Linked DNA regions of Homo sapiens. The protein of the gene in region 3 purifies or fractionates together with the protein of the main gene of each other region. This does not show direct contact. Each region holds a gene or a part of one and is shown on either strand. Other genes may lie near its edges.

The links. Proteins that work in one complex are often made in the same cells at the same time.
Region 1: the proteins of SEC14L2 (region 3) and GPI fractionate together in Homo sapiens (co-fractionation; one large-scale study listed by BioGRID). This does not show direct contact.
Region 2: the proteins of SEC14L2 (region 3) and NIT2 fractionate together in Homo sapiens (co-fractionation; one large-scale study listed by BioGRID). This does not show direct contact.
Region 4: the proteins of SEC14L2 (region 3) and LYPLAL1 fractionate together in Homo sapiens (co-fractionation; one large-scale study listed by BioGRID). This does not show direct contact.

The regions. Positions count from the first base shown.
Region 1 is NC_000019.10:34,375,196-34,378,743, reverse strand, and holds part of GPI (glucose-6-phosphate isomerase), read right to left. Parts: intron 1,242-3,548; coding exon 1,158-1,241; intron 1,010-1,157; coding exon 863-1,009; intron 1-862. UniProt on the Homo sapiens protein: In the cytoplasm, catalyzes the conversion of glucose-6-phosphate to fructose-6-phosphate, the second step in glycolysis, and the reverse reaction during gluconeogenesis.
Region 2 is NC_000003.12:100,348,257-100,351,804, forward strand, and holds part of NIT2 (omega-amidase NIT2), read left to right. Parts: intron 1-546; coding exon 547-625; intron 626-3,548. UniProt on the Homo sapiens protein: Has omega-amidase activity. The role of omega-amidase is to remove potentially toxic intermediates by converting 2-oxoglutaramate and 2-oxosuccinamate to biologically useful 2-oxoglutarate and oxaloacetate, respectively.
Region 3 is NC_000022.11:30,417,518-30,421,871, reverse strand, and holds part of SEC14L2 (SEC14-like protein 2), read right to left. Parts: intron 1-4,354. UniProt on the Homo sapiens protein: Carrier protein. Binds to some hydrophobic molecules and promotes their transfer between the different cellular sites. Binds with high affinity to alpha-tocopherol. Also binds with a weaker affinity to other tocopherols and to tocotrienols.
Region 4 is NC_000001.11:219,208,378-219,211,925, reverse strand, and holds part of LYPLAL1 (lysophospholipase-like protein 1), read right to left. Parts: intron 1,412-3,548; coding exon of another isoform or gene 1,395-1,411; coding exon 1,279-1,394; intron 435-1,278; coding exon 198-434; 3' UTR 1-197.

The DNA of each region.
Region 1 (3,548 bases), on a different chromosome or scaffold from region 3:
AACACACCCCCCAACCCTAAGCCTGCAGGTCAAAGGCCGCAGCTTCTCCCCTGAGGGGCTGCAGTCAACCTGAGGCTCTCTTCGGCCCAGGCTGGAAGGTATCTCAGAATTCAGATGGAATTCTTCATATTTTATGTACATTCATGTGAGTAAATAGAACATAAATAAAAACAAACAAAACCCCTCTATTATCAGGGCATGGCTCTGGGATCAGAAAGGAGCAAGCATGGCTGGGCATGGCGGCTCAAGACTGTAATCCCAGCACTTTGGGAGGCCAAGGGGGGGTGCATCACCTGAGGTCAGGAGTTCAAGACCAGCATGGCCAACATGGCAAAAGCCCATCTCTACTAAAAAATAATAATAATAAATAAATAAATAATAAAATTAGCCAGGCGTGGTGGTGTGTGCCTAGTCCCAGCTACTTGGGAGGCTGAGGCAGGAGAATCGCTTGAAACCTGGGAGACGGAGATTGCAGTGAGCCGAGATCACGCCACTACACTCCAGCCTGGGTGACAGAGCCAGACTCTGTCTCAAAAACAACAACAAGAAAAGGAGCAGGCATAAAGGACAGGTTTGTAAGAAAGTGGCGAGCAGTCCCAGGCTGAGCAGAGATGCCGCAAGGCGAGCGGGTGTGGTCAGGACACAAAGGTTCAAACTGATGTGTTCAGGATTTCATCAGTCAACCTTATTTGCTGCTAGGCATGGAAACAGTCTAGGGCAGCTGTACTGACCTGATCCACAAACCATGGTTCACTCGGAACCCACCAAAAGGGACCAATGGCCAGGGGGATGGCAAGACAGCTGTCCCTCCCCACCCCAACACACACAGGGCCAGGGGCCGGGCAGTTTTCGGCACTCATACCTTGGAGGCAATGATGAACAGGGAGGACTCGGGGTTCAGCTGGGCCAGGGTTTTGGCAATGTGAGTTCCATCAATGTTGGAGACATACCAGACGCGGGGACCTCCTGAAGAGTATGGCTTAAGGGCTTCAGTCACCATGAGGGGTCCCTGCGGGGAGACATAGCATCAGAGAATAAGAATTCAGGGCCCACGAAAAGTGGAGACAGCCAGGTCCCATCCCTGGAGAAAGTAAAGACCTGAGTGGGACCAACAGTGCCCAGACTCCCACCCTACCCCAAGGCAGTTTTCTCCTCACCAGGTCGGAGCCGCCAATGCCAATGTTGATGACGTCCGTGATGGTCTTGCCTGTGTACCCCTTCCAGTCACCGCTCCGGACACGCTGGCACAGGGGCGAAGATGCCATCAGCCCAAACCCCCAGGCATAATCCGCTGCTCAAAAACATCATTACTGCCGTGTCCTGGTACCTCAGTCCCAGCTTTCAGGCCCTCGCAGGTGCCTCTATTTTTTTGTTTTTAATTTACCATATATATATATATATATATATTTTTTTTTTTTTTTTTTTTTTTTTTTTTTTTTTTTGAGATGAAGCCTTGCTCTGTTGCCCAGGCTGGAGTGCAGTGGCATGATCTCGGCTCCCTGCAATCTCTGCCTCCCAGGTTCACGTCATTCTCCTGCCTCAGCCTCCTGAGTAGCTGGGACTACAGGCGCCCGCCACCACACCCAGCTAGTTTTTTGTATTTTTAGTAGAGACAGGGTTTCACCGTGTTAGCCAGGATGGTCTCGATCTCCTGACCCTGTGATCTGCCCGCCTCAGCCTCCCAAAGTGCTGGGATTACTGGCTTGAGCCACCGCACCCAGCTATTTATTTTTAATTTTTTTTTTGAGACAGAGTCTCCACTTTCTGGGTTCTAACAATTCTCATGCCTCAGTCTCCTGAGTAGCTGGGACTACAAGCCTGCGCCACCAGCATGCCTAGCTAATTTTTTTGTATTTTTAGTAGGGACGAGGTTTTGCCATGTTGGCCAGGCTGGTCTCGAATTACTGGCCTCAAGTGATCTGCCCAGCTCGGCCTCCCAAAGTGCTGGAATTACAGGTGTGAGCCACCGCGCCTCGCTATTTACTTATTTTTAAAACTGTGCCTTAGGGGCCAGGCAGGGTGGCTCAAGGCTGAGACAGGAGGATTGCTTGAGTCCAGGAAGTTGAGGCTGCAGCAAGCCAAGATCGCAACACTGCACCTCCAGCCTAGGTGACAGAGGAAGACCCTGACTCCAAAAACAGAACAAAATGCTCTGCTTTAGCCTTTTTTTTTTTTTTTTTGAGACAGGGTCTCACTCCGTCGCCCAGGCTGGAGTACAACGGCACGATCTCAGCTCACTGCAGCCTCCGCCTCCAGGCTCCAGGGTTCAAGCAATTCTCCTGCCTCAGCCTCCCAAGTAGCTGGGATTACAGGCACCTGCCACCCTGCCCAGCTAATTTTTAGTATTTCCAGTAGAGATGGGGTTTCGCCGTGTTGGCCACGCTGGTCTCAAACTCCTGACCTCAGGTGATCCACCTGCCTCGGCCTCCCAAAGCGCTTGGATTACAGGCATGAGCCACCACGCAAAGCCTATTTTATTTTTTGTAGAGACAGCGTCTTGCTACGTTGCCCAGCCTGGTCTCTAACTCCTGGCCTCAAATAATCCTCCCATCTTGACCTCCCAAAGTGTTGGGATTACAGGCGTGAGCCACTACACAAGGCATAGGAGTCTCTGGAGACCACACTGGTCCCTGCCACACTCACCACCAACTAGACTCTTTCCTGGTTACAACAGTGAGACATCCCTACCTTACAGCGACACTGTCAGAATTTGCAAAACCAGGGATAACTCGGCAGAATCTGCTATGCCAGAGACCAAGAGATGTGAAATGTTGAAAACTGTGACTGGGCTATGCTGGGGAAAGGAGTATCAGACCCGCAGCCAGTCTCCAATCAGACACCAGTGATCCTTGCTTCCTGGAATTCATGCCTCTGCATAGCTTCCGCCTGTGCTGGGAGGGGTGACCTATGCACCCATCCAGAGACTGCAAAAAGGGGTGAAATGTGACTTCAGAAGTGAGTTCAGAGAACGTGCAGTTTCTGCTTTGCTCTCTTGGATGACTCGCTTTGGGGAAGCTGTCTATCATGTTGTGAAGACATTCAAACAGTTTCATAAAGAAGCCCACGCGGCAGCGAACTAAGGCCTTTTTCCAAAAGTCACAGCCAACTCGCTTCCTGTGTATGGGACACTTTAGAGGGGGGTCCTCCAAACCCATCAAAACTTCCGATAACTGGGGCGCTGGCCAACATGTTGACTACAGCCTTATGAGAGATCCCCAAACCAAGACCAACCAGCTAAGCCGCTCCCAAACTTCTGACCCACAGACACTGTGAGAGGTAATAAAAGTTTACTGCTAGGCCGGGCATGGTGGCTCACACCTGTAATCCTGGCACTTTGGGAGACCAAGGCAGGCAGATCACAAGGTCAGGAGTTCGAGACCAGCCTAGTCAACATGGTGAAACCCCGTCTCTGCTAAAAAAAAAAAATACAAAAATTATCCAGGCATGGTGGCGTGTGCCTGTAATCTCAGCTACTCGGGAGGCTGAGGCAGGAGAATTGCTTAAATCCAGGAGGCAGAGGTTGCAGTGAGTGGAGATCACGCCATTGC
Region 2 (3,548 bases), on a different chromosome or scaffold from region 3:
TCTCGGAATTGTGCCACTCATTTTTTCACCAAATACGGGTGTTCCAGAAACTATCATGGCACGGGTGGGTGTGTGATTTAGTATGTTAATGAGCTTATAATGAGGATAATGAAGTCCTAGGTGAAACCTAGGTCAAACCCAGCACCATATTGAGTCCACTGGGTCTTAGCCCTAGTTTCTCAGGGTCTTAGCCCCTAGCGTAGGCAGCTATTTCAACAGTTTCTTTTTGCTAGTCATATGAAACTGCTGCCTGGAATTTTCTGTTCTCTTGCGACCGTCCTGTATTATTTCTGTCTCAAAGTCACATGTGATTTTGGTCATCAACACCACTTTTCTTGTGTGTCCATATGTGTGTGACTTACGTGTTCGTATTAAAGGAATTCAGAGCCATATCTTAATTGCTGCTGGCACTGTCTGACTTGGCTGACATCTTTTTATGTTTGGGAAAGTTTGAGTTCAGTTCCTGCTAGATAAGGAACAGTGGGGAGGACTGGTTTTGTTGAGTGCTCACTGCATCCACTGTTCTTTGGCTTTTCTCTCCCCAAGGCTGCCAGCTGTTGGTATATCCAGGAGCTTTTAATCTGACCACTGGACCAGCCCATTGGGAGTTACTTCAGCGAAGCCGGTAAGAAAGGAACCATATATTCAAGCCTCTCGGCATGTCCTCTTTGTAGAAAGATTTCCGGTTGGGTGGAGGTGCCAGCCTTCCTGATGTGGATTCTGTCCCTGACTCAGGATGCCCTTGTATCCAAATGCAGTTGGAAAGGATGAAGCTATAAGGAGGACTTCTACTGCACGTCACTTTCTCCTCAGAAGCCACAATACCAACCTCATGGATTTTGGAAACTGTACTTTTTTTTTTTTTTTTTTCTTTTTAAGAGACGGGTCTTACCATTGCCCAGGCTGGAGTGCAGTGGTGTAATCATAGCTCATTACAGCCTTGAAATCCTGGGCTCAAGAGATCGTCCTGCCTCAGCCTCCTGAGTAGCTGGGACTACAAACATGCGCCACCATGCCTTGCTAATTTTTTATTTTTTGTAGAGATAGAGCCTCACTCTGTTGATCAAGCTGGTCTCAATCTCCTGGCCTCAAGCGATCTTCCCGCCTCAGCTTTTCAAAGTGCTGGGATTACAGGTGTGAGCCCCAAGCCCTGCCGGAACTGTGGTTTTGGCATTTTCAATATTCAGTGTATTAGATGGGAAGGGATTTCATTTTTCTGTGATTAGATGTGGATTGGTCCCTCTTAAGTCAGTTCCAGCAACTTTTACAGAGAAATTGAGAACCACAGAGCTTATGTCTTCAGAGCCCCAGAAGCCAATTAAAAGGCAGGGATTAGTTTAGCTTGACCTAGGGAGAGATTTGTGGTCTGTACCCAGCTGATTCTATGCCATTCAGATCAGGATGCTTATCCTACCCCCTCCTTCACACCATCCTACTAGTCCTGAGGGTACTGTGCCAAGAAACTCATGAGAAGCTCTTGTTCTTCTAACCTATAACTCCAGGGCTTTGCACAAGCATCTTTGGCAGGTCACAGGTGCCTTTCCTTAGTCTTCTAAGGCTGAGAGGTGGTGAAGGGCAAATAGCATAGGTGGACATAAGATGGAAGGGAAAATGAATGTGACTGTGAGTGTGTCTGTCTGTCTGTAAAGTGCTCTACAGCCCATGAAATGCTGGTCTGAGATGATGGTTTTCTTTAGAATTTTTAAAAGTTGAAGTAATACAAAAAAAGTGTACTAATTTTAAGCATAGAGGTTGGTGAATTTTTGTGTATTCACCTGCCACCAAGATGAACATAACAGAACATTTCCAGCCCCCGAGGATGCTCCCTTTTTTGCCCCTTTCTAGTTAGTACTCCTCCCTCTGCCTAGAGGTAGCTGCTGTTCTCACTTCTAGAGATGGTGGTAATGTTTAATGTAAGGGAAAGAGGTTTTAGCTGGTTGCATGGTGGAAGATGGGGGTAGGGGTATAAGATGCCATGAGTATCAGTGAAGGTACAGTTTTGTCAAAAGTGAGAAGTTTCTGGGATACTGAGATGACCCAGCATGGGTCTGTTAAGTCTCGAGGGCTCCGAGGTGAGGTGCTTTGGTGTACCTGGACTGCGAGCTGCAATTTTTGTTCTATTTGAGGTGGTGGGACTGCCACCATGGGCATGGAAGCGCCATGTGGCCTGCAAGGTGTATTGCTCTCATAAGGCCACTCCATTCTCTCCGGCCACCTTGACTTGCTTTAACCAGAGAAGCTCTTCTCTTATGTTAGCTTATAGCAGGCTTTCTCAGCAGTGGCACTGTTGACATTTAGGTGTGTAATTCTTTGTGTGGGGGCTGTCCTGTGCATGGTAGGATGTTTAGCAGCATCTGTGGCCTCTACCTGCTCGATGTCAGTAGCATCTCCTTAGTCACGACAGTCAGGAAGATCTCTAGACATTGTCAAATTTGGTGGGCAACATTGCTCCTTGCTGAGAACCACTGGCTTATGCAGTAAGGTAACTTTGCACAATGTGCAGGTTAGTTACATATGTATACGTGTGCCATGCTGGTGTGCTGCACCCATTAACTCGTCATTTAGCATTAGGTATATCTCCTAAAGCTATCTCTCCCCCCTGCCCCCACCCCACAACAGTCCCCAGAGTGTGATGTTCCCCTTCGTGTGTCCATGTGTTCTCATTGTTCAATTCCCACCTATGAGTGAGAATATGCGGTGTTTGGTTTTTTGTGCTTGCAATAGTTTACTGAGAATGATGATTTCCAATTTCATCCATGTCCCTACAAAGGACATGAACTCATCATTTTTTATGGCTGCATAGTATTCCATGGTGTATATGTGCCACATTTTCTTAATCCAGTCTATCATTGTTGGACATTTGGGTTGGTTCCAAGTCTTTGTTATTGTGAATAGTGCTGCAATAAACATATGTGTGCATGTGTCTTTATAGCAGCATGATTTATAGTCCTTTGGGTATATACCCAGCTACCAATGACTTTCTTCACAGAATTGGAAAAAACTAAAGTTCATATGGAACCAAAAAAGAGCCCGCATCGCCAAGTCAATCCTAAGCCAACAGAACAAAGCTGGAGGCATCACGCTACCTGACTTCAAACTATACTACAAGGCTACAGTAATCAAAACAGCATGGTACTGGTACCAAAACAGAGATATAGATCAATGGAACAGAACAGAGCCCTCAGAAATAACGCCGCATATCTACAACTATCTGATCTTTGACAAACCTGAGAAAAACAAGCAATGGGGAAAGGATTCCCTATTTAATAAATGGTGCTGGGAAAACTGGCTAGCCATATGTAGAAAGCTGAAACTGGATCCCTTCCTTACACTTTATACAAAAGTTAATTCAAGATGGATTAAAGACTTAAACGTTGGACCTAAAACCATAAAAACCCTAGAAGAAAACCTAGGCATTACCATTCAGGACATAGGCATGGGCAAGGACTTCATGTCTAAAACACCAAAAGCAATGACAACAAAAGCCAAAATTGACAAATGGGATCTAATTAAACTAAAAGAGCTTCTGCACAGCAAAAGAAACTACC
Region 3 (4,354 bases):
GGTAATCTATATGTTATCTCACTCTTTCCCCCAACTCTACGAGTTCAGCAGTAGTCCTGTTTTATAGCTGATAAAAAGGAGGTGGTGTGACTCTGGTGACACACAGTGAGGAAATGACAGAGCTGGAGTTTCCGTCTGTTCCACATTGCTGCATTTGTTCTGCCTGACTTGGACCCTGGAAAACCTGGCCCTCTTCAATTTCTGACAAAAGGTAAAATGTGCAAACTTTGTGAACCAGGAATTTATCCTGCAAAAAGGTAAATGGACAGAGATGCTCGTTGCATCCCTATTTGTAATAATAAGAGATTGGGAAAACTCAAATGTTCATCAAAGGAGAATTGCTTCAACAATTTTATGTTGTAATCCATGTGATAGAATACTGATATATTTTTTAAAAAAGAGGTTAGCTCCACAGAAGTGACAGGAAACTGTCCACAATGTGTCCTGAGGCCAAAACAAGTTGCAGAACAGTATGTAAACAGTTTGTAACTTTTTTGTAACTACATAGGTAAAAATACTTTTGGCTTTACTTCTTTGTCTGCTTAGACTCCCAGATTCTCTGATGATACCACTCTGGTGCTTGTCCTAATGGGAAAGTTTCCTGAAATCCTGCGATGAGTTTGACAGTTTCAAAATTCCTTCAAACATACAGTGAATGACAGACAATTCCTGTGAATATGTGTGTGTGTGTGTGTGTGTGTGTGTGTTTGTGTATGTCCTGTTTTCTATTTATTTATTTAAGATAACCTGATTGTCATCCTCGCGCAGGGGCCATGCTAATCTCTGTATTGTTTCAATTTTAGTGTATGTGCTGACAAAGCGAGCACTGTATGCCCTGTTTATTATGGAAACATGTAATGCTTCTAGATGGAAGATATTTGATAGGATAATAGACATTAGCAGTGGTTTCCTCTGGAAAGAGAAAATGGGCATGCACTTGGCAGAGAAAGCTTCCACACTTTGGCAGAGGAACAGGCTGCTTTTAATCTAACCCTGTTTCTTTGAGAAGTTGTTCCATTTCAGCCAAACACCGCTTCAGGAGAACTGAATGTGAAAACAAAAACACTAGTTCTGCCCCATCCCTATCCCGGTCTTCTCTCACTGTTCTCAGCAAGAAAAAAAATATCCTGTATTTAATCCTAAGACTTAACCTTTTCCTGACCCTGGACAAAATGCATAGTTTAGACAAAGGGTAGACACACCACCCACTCTTTCCTCATGGTGAAGGTGTTAGTCATCTATTTTTCCCCTGTACTAGAGGTCTTTCAGAGCCAATAGTCCCTCTGGCAAGAGTGAAGCTTCATCTCTGCCCTGGATGATAGAGTCTTAGCAACCAGAATCAGCCATGCTGGAGGAGAGGTCCTTTGCATTCATTGCACCAAGTACTAGGTCGATAATGGCCCTGCCTAGCAAGATACTTGGCCTCAGAAACAAGAAAGGGGTTGATCAGAGAACCACAGGCCAGAGGGAAGTGGAGTCATTGCAGCTCCAGAGTCTGCATGGTTCATTTTGACACTAATCATAGACTCACAGAGCCCCCAGACACCCTCCAGGATAAGGCTCCTTAACTTTAGTTGGGTAACTGACCCCCTTGAGAATCTGATGAAAGCACACAATTTGGCTGGGCGTGGTGGCTCACGCCTGTAATCCCAGCACTTTGGGAGGCTGAGGCGGGTGGATCACCTGAGGCCGGGAGTTCAAGACCAGCCTAACGAACACGGAGAAACCCCATCTCTACTAAAAATACAAAATTAGCCAGGCGTGGTGGCCCATGCCTGTAATCCCAGCTACTTGGGAGGCTGAGGCAGGAGAATCACTTGAACCTGGGAGGCGAAGGTTGCAGTGAGTCGAGATCGAGCCATTACATTCCATCCTGGGCAACAAGAGCAAAACTCTGTCTCAAAAAAAAAAAAAGAAAAGAAAAGAAAAGAAAAAAAGGCACATAATTTTAGATTTCCTGGAGCCCACTGTAGAACCTCTGGGGCCATGGTTCCCAATGGGAAAGGTACAACCTTACCCTCTCATTCATGTATTGAAAAAATATATATTCTAAATTAGTTCCCTTTTATATCTCTTTTCTATTACCATAGGAGATTATATTGATTTTTAAATTACATGTGTAGGTAGGATGGGTTATATTATTGGGATATAATATTCAGAATTTCTGTATTTTGAATTTCACTTCAGAATAGTAAAGGGGACATTTTAGACACTATTTGCTGTAAAGAGGAAGTGTTTGGTCTTTACGATTTAGAACCACTGCTCCGGGGGACCCCACATTAAGATCTGCTCTGGTCTACTCCTCTCTTTTTGTTGTTGTTGTTGTTTTGAGACAGAGTCTCTCTCTGTCACCCAGGTTGGAGTGCAGTGGTGCAATCTTGGCTTACTGCAACCTCCGCCTCCTGGGTTCAAGCAATTCTCATGCCAAGTAGCTGGGATTACCAGCATGCGCCACCACACTCAGCTTATTTTTGTATTTTTTAGTAGAGACGGGGTTTTGCCATGTTGGCCAGGCTGGTCTCGAACTGTTGGCCTCGAGTGATCCACCCACCTTGACCTCCCAAAATGCTGGCATTACAGGCATGAGCCACCACGCCCGGCCATCACTTCTGTCATTTTAAGGAGAAGGAAAACCAAACCTAATAGAGACACTTGCTGAAAACACTGGGAGAGTCATTGGCAAAGCTGGACTCAGAAACCAGGCCTCCTGGTGCCTGGCTGGGCTCTTTTCACCACAGCACTGCTCACCCTTTCTATAGTGTTTCCAGTCTTCTGACCACATTGTGCACTTCTAGTGGACAAAGTCCAGATCTTTCTTTGGGAATCTTTTCATTCCTAGTTGAGTATTCTGTACTCAGTAGGCCCTTGGTAAATATTAGGTGAGAAAACAAAAGCGAAATCAATTCAAACTTTGGTTTTCCTCCTTGGTAATTTAGTGCACTGGGATAAGGACCAGAGAAGCCTGGGGAAGGTTAATGTGCTCTTGCCATTGGAGGCTGGCACAGTTTTAATTTCTCCACTGGATGACTGTTCTGCTTTCCAGGGGTCTCCTGGTTCTCCAAGGGCATTGCCCTCCCGCAGATGAGCTTGCAAGCTAATACTGGGTTCTCTCTGGGCTCACATCTAACCTTAGCTGTGGCACCAGGTAACAGCTGATTCCAACTTCATTGTCTTTGTACCTGGGAAGGGGGAATGGATCCTGTGGCCTGCCTCTGCTCCTCTTGGGAATGGGCAAGGAGCAGATCCCAGACAAGACCCTGCAGGCAGGTAAAGGTTCTGGTTGGGAATGTATCCAGAAGGAACTAAAATAAATTTGGGGGTTTGCAAGCCCAAGCCTGATTATGTTAAAAGGTTCATGTTCCCTTCTTGGGCAATGTCCTTCAGATACTAAAGAGAAGATAGAGGGGTAATGGGCAGATGCTGGAAAATGGTTTGGGGCTCTCCTACAGGCTCTGTGACCTTGGGTCAATTACTTCCCTGGTCTGGGATTCCACACTCTCTGACACATCCAGGACAGTCAATGGCCAAGAGGTTCTGGATCAGGACTCTAGGATTCTCTGATGTCTTCTGTCTTGATGTCTACATAAGCTACTTTATGGGAGAACATCCCTTCTCTATGCCCCAGCTTCCCCATCCATTAAAAAAATAATTCAAGGCTGGGCATGGTGGCTCATGCTGGTAATCTCAGCACTTTGGGAGGCCAAGGCAGGAGGGTCGCTTGAACCCAGGAGTTCGAGACCAGCCTGGGCAACACAGCGATACCTCGTCTCTACTAAAAACAAAGAAACAGACAAAAAAATTCAAGCTTATATGTATTAAGTGCTTTCTCCTCTGTGGGTGACATTGTCTGGGCTGGTGCTAAGCCTTGTTCTTGCTGAAGCACACAGTATACACCTTCTCCCCCAGGACCCGGCTGCTCACTAATAAGAATATTCCGCCTCCCCCAGGAGCTATATGGTACCACAGAGCATCTGTGAGGAGGGGGCAGTGGAGATGAAGGGTGCCTGGGATGTGAGGAAGGAGGCAAAATCTCAGGTTGGGTGACCATGTAGACAAGCAGAGAGGCCAAGACATCTGTGAGGCTAGTTCAGATCTCCTGGTAGTGCTGGTACTACCGTAGAAATGGGGCACAGGGCTTCTCCCATCTCCCGGCATTGTCTGCAGGATGGCCCTTCTCCCACAGGCCTTGTCCTAACAATAATAGTGGTGACTGCAGTGCATTGAGTGCTTGCTCTATGCCAGGCATTATGCTAAGTGCCTCACAGAACCTATCACATCAAATCATCAGGTATCCCTGTGAGATACCCCAGTGTAGCAGTCCGGAAACCGAAGCTTAGGTTTTGTCACTTGCCAA
Region 4 (3,548 bases), on a different chromosome or scaffold from region 3:
GAAAAATTATGCACAGATGTTTGTCTATTGTTTTTCATTAATAAGATTAGCTACTGTCTACAGTGATAAGCATTTTAATAATAAAAAAGTCAGGAAAGTGTTATTTCTTAATATTTTAATTATCATTATAATTTGGCAGTAAAAATCACTTTTCACAAAGACATTACACTTACATTAACAAATCACTCTTGATTCATTCATTTTTGTTTTTCCATTTCTCCTGGCAGCTTTGTAAGAATCCATAACTTCAATATGTCTAACTCAGTTTTGCTTAGCTCATGGTAAACATTTGGAAAACTATGAAACTTCGTGGTCACTCCTAGAGATTTTAACATTGAGTTTGTCTCTTCTGCCCAAGAATGAAGAACTAACTCATCTGCAGTACCATGACACTGAAATAATTCAGGAAGTACACCATTACTCTTCTGAAGAGCCTAGAGAAGAAGATACAAAGACAGAAAAGTTTAAGAAATTCCATTTAAGATCATTCTTAGAAATCAGAGAGAACAGGAAAATTCCAATTTTACCAAGGCTTCAATAACTAATGGGAAAAAAAAGGCAGAGGGAGTGCTGTCTGAGGTATACATTGGTGGGCCAGGCCTGGGGACTTAGCTGGTTCCTGGCATCACTCAATTTGTAACTGTGTGTCACTTACATTTATTCTATAGAGGACGTCTTAAAAATGGCCAAAGCATTTCCTAAAGAAACTAAGTGACTTGGGAAGACAGACCTCTTCACACAATGTGGAAGGAGGGAGGAGTACACAGCTAAGGCACAATCAAGGGGACAATTACATTTTAGTTCTCTATTCTGTATCTGCTTTAACATTTCCACTTCTGGTACTGAAGCTGTAACATTATAATTGAAGCTGCATCATATTCATAGATGAGGATATTGCTGCATAATAAGTATGTGCTATGTAATTGATTTTTGTTTTATGTTCATGATGCAATAAGCAAACCCAGCTATAACCATCATGCAGTTTTAATATGTATAAAATTTACATATATGCTCCCCCACAACCACACACATGATTATCCTTTCCTCCTTGACATTTTGCTTAACAATATTTCTTGTACAGGGGATTTCCAAAACATTAATGATCAGCTGGAATTTAATCACTACGACTCATTTGGCCATGAATTCCAGGAATGGTCAATCCATATCAACTGTGCATCAACTGTGTGTGTGTTTTACAGCTTTATTACCGATTTTGCTTTAGTTTTAACATGTATATATTTCATATTTTTTTCATTTTTTTTTAAATCTGGAACTTACCTGGTAAACAGCAGATGCTTTATTCAGAAAACTAGAAAGAGCAAATACTCCTGCCACATCTTGATGATTTCTATATGCTAAATGTATTGCCATGCATCCTCCCATAGAGAATCCTCCTAAAAACAAAAACATACTTAAAAGTAGAATACATAAAATAATAATTTAGGATATGATATATAACAATTTTCCATATTTTTAAAATATCTGGAGACCTTTAAAGAGAATGCTAAAAAGAAATTTCGTCTACTCTAAGTTTCACAGACAAAGGCCTGCGATAACATAAATAACCCTGTTCCCTCTATGTCACCACTGGTAAAGAGAGCTGTGCTCTACAAGGAGCCAGGATTAAACAAATATATCATGTTCACCAAGTAAAATATCTATCGTAATTCAAAATGAGTCATATTACAAGCATTACTTAAATTCTCAATATTTACTTATATTTTGTTTACACGTACAGAAACCCTCACACTGCAACGCAATTAATAATTTGCACCTTTTTGTCTTACTTGCTAAGCTGTGAGCTCCATAAGGAGTTATGTATCTGGTGTTTGCTATATAATAGATGCTTAGTGAATTCTGAATTAAGAATGATAAAAAAAATTTGAGGAGCTAGTTAACACATTTTTGGATTACAATATTATTTTGGAAACTAATTTATGGTGATATAATAAAAATGAAACATGTATGCCTATATGTAGTTTTTAAAACCAAAGTTTGAAAAAAAAATTAGTCAAACTGTTATTGTCTCTTTAATGTACCAATTCTATGCCAGTCACTGGATATATGCAGATTAAAATACACAGACCCTCCTGTTCAGGGGAACTTTGAGAAGGAAACACATCCAACACAGAATATGGAGATAGCTGTTATGAGGTGACGGCAGCAGAGAGAATGGTGATTCCAGGCCTGACGACAAGTCAGTGACTCAGTGTGACATTCCTAAGCTTGAGAGAAAGCTAAATGACATCTCATTATATTCCATGAGAAAATACAGAATGTAAATCATGTAGCCACACACTCATAGAAATACAAAAATATACTTTGAAGTAGAATTCAAATCTCCTAATTTCAAGTCTGCTGCTTTATTTCACTTAACAAAGTGTAAAGCTGAGCTCTTAAGAGACCATAAATTTGAATTTACTACAATAATCTTTTATACATGGAGGGAACTGAGGCCCAAGATTAGGTACATATTATTTTAAATATAAAACTATTAATAGTAATTTTGGAATTCGGATCTTTTGCAATAGAGTTTAATATACTTTCTACTATCCCTTGATATTTATTAAAATAGGACTACTTTATCTGGAATAGGCAGGTAATATTATTTTGGACTCAGAACACAAATACCCGAGAGAAGATTACCAGTCTGGCAAAGTTTAGATTTTTTAAAAAAGGCACACTATGTAAATAATGAATAAAAGTTATCTGTGATTTTCAACATACCAGCAAGAAATAATAAGTTCTTATCGTAGCAGTAGCCCACCATGGACAAGAGCCACCTGAAAGGCTCTTTCAAAATACCCCCAATAACTCCAGATGTAGATACATCTAATTAGAAGTTCATAAATGAGCTTGGTGGGGGAGAAAAAAGCATAAGCATCTTAACACTGTATGTAAAATTTGCAAATGTACATTAGATTCTCCAAAAGGTTAAAAGCCACTGGGCTACATTATCCATGAATTTGTGCATTAATAAATCTTTGACATGTCCCATTTAGATATGAACAGCTTACGTAAATACACAAATTAGTATTTCTGGTAAACATTTATTGTAAGTACACAGAAAAAAATCTCAACTTTATTGTTTTTTGCCACAATTCTAGTTACAGATTTCTCTCTGCTTATGAAGTTTTCTCTTTAATAACATCATGAGGGTTGTAAAGCGAAGACATTTTGAAATAAAATTCTTATCGATTTAATTTATTGAATATAAATTATTGAGATTTTGAAACCCTTAAGGGTAAGAAACAGTTTTTCTTCAATAATCATATTTTCATTGAGTGCTTATGATTAGCTGAACAAAGTGTCTCTGTGGTGCACGCATACTAATGAGTCAGTTTCAACTTTACACGCTCAGTGGTAAGTATAGTGCTTTGCACATAGCAGTAACTCAATAAAAATTTAACTGAATTTTTAGAAACCGTATGGGTTTCTAATGAAAGTAGTAAAAAATTTACAAATATCTCTTAAGCTTATCAAAGAGACAACATTAAGGAAACTAGTTCTAGTCCTGCCTGTGATACTCCCAAGCTGAATGTCTTTGT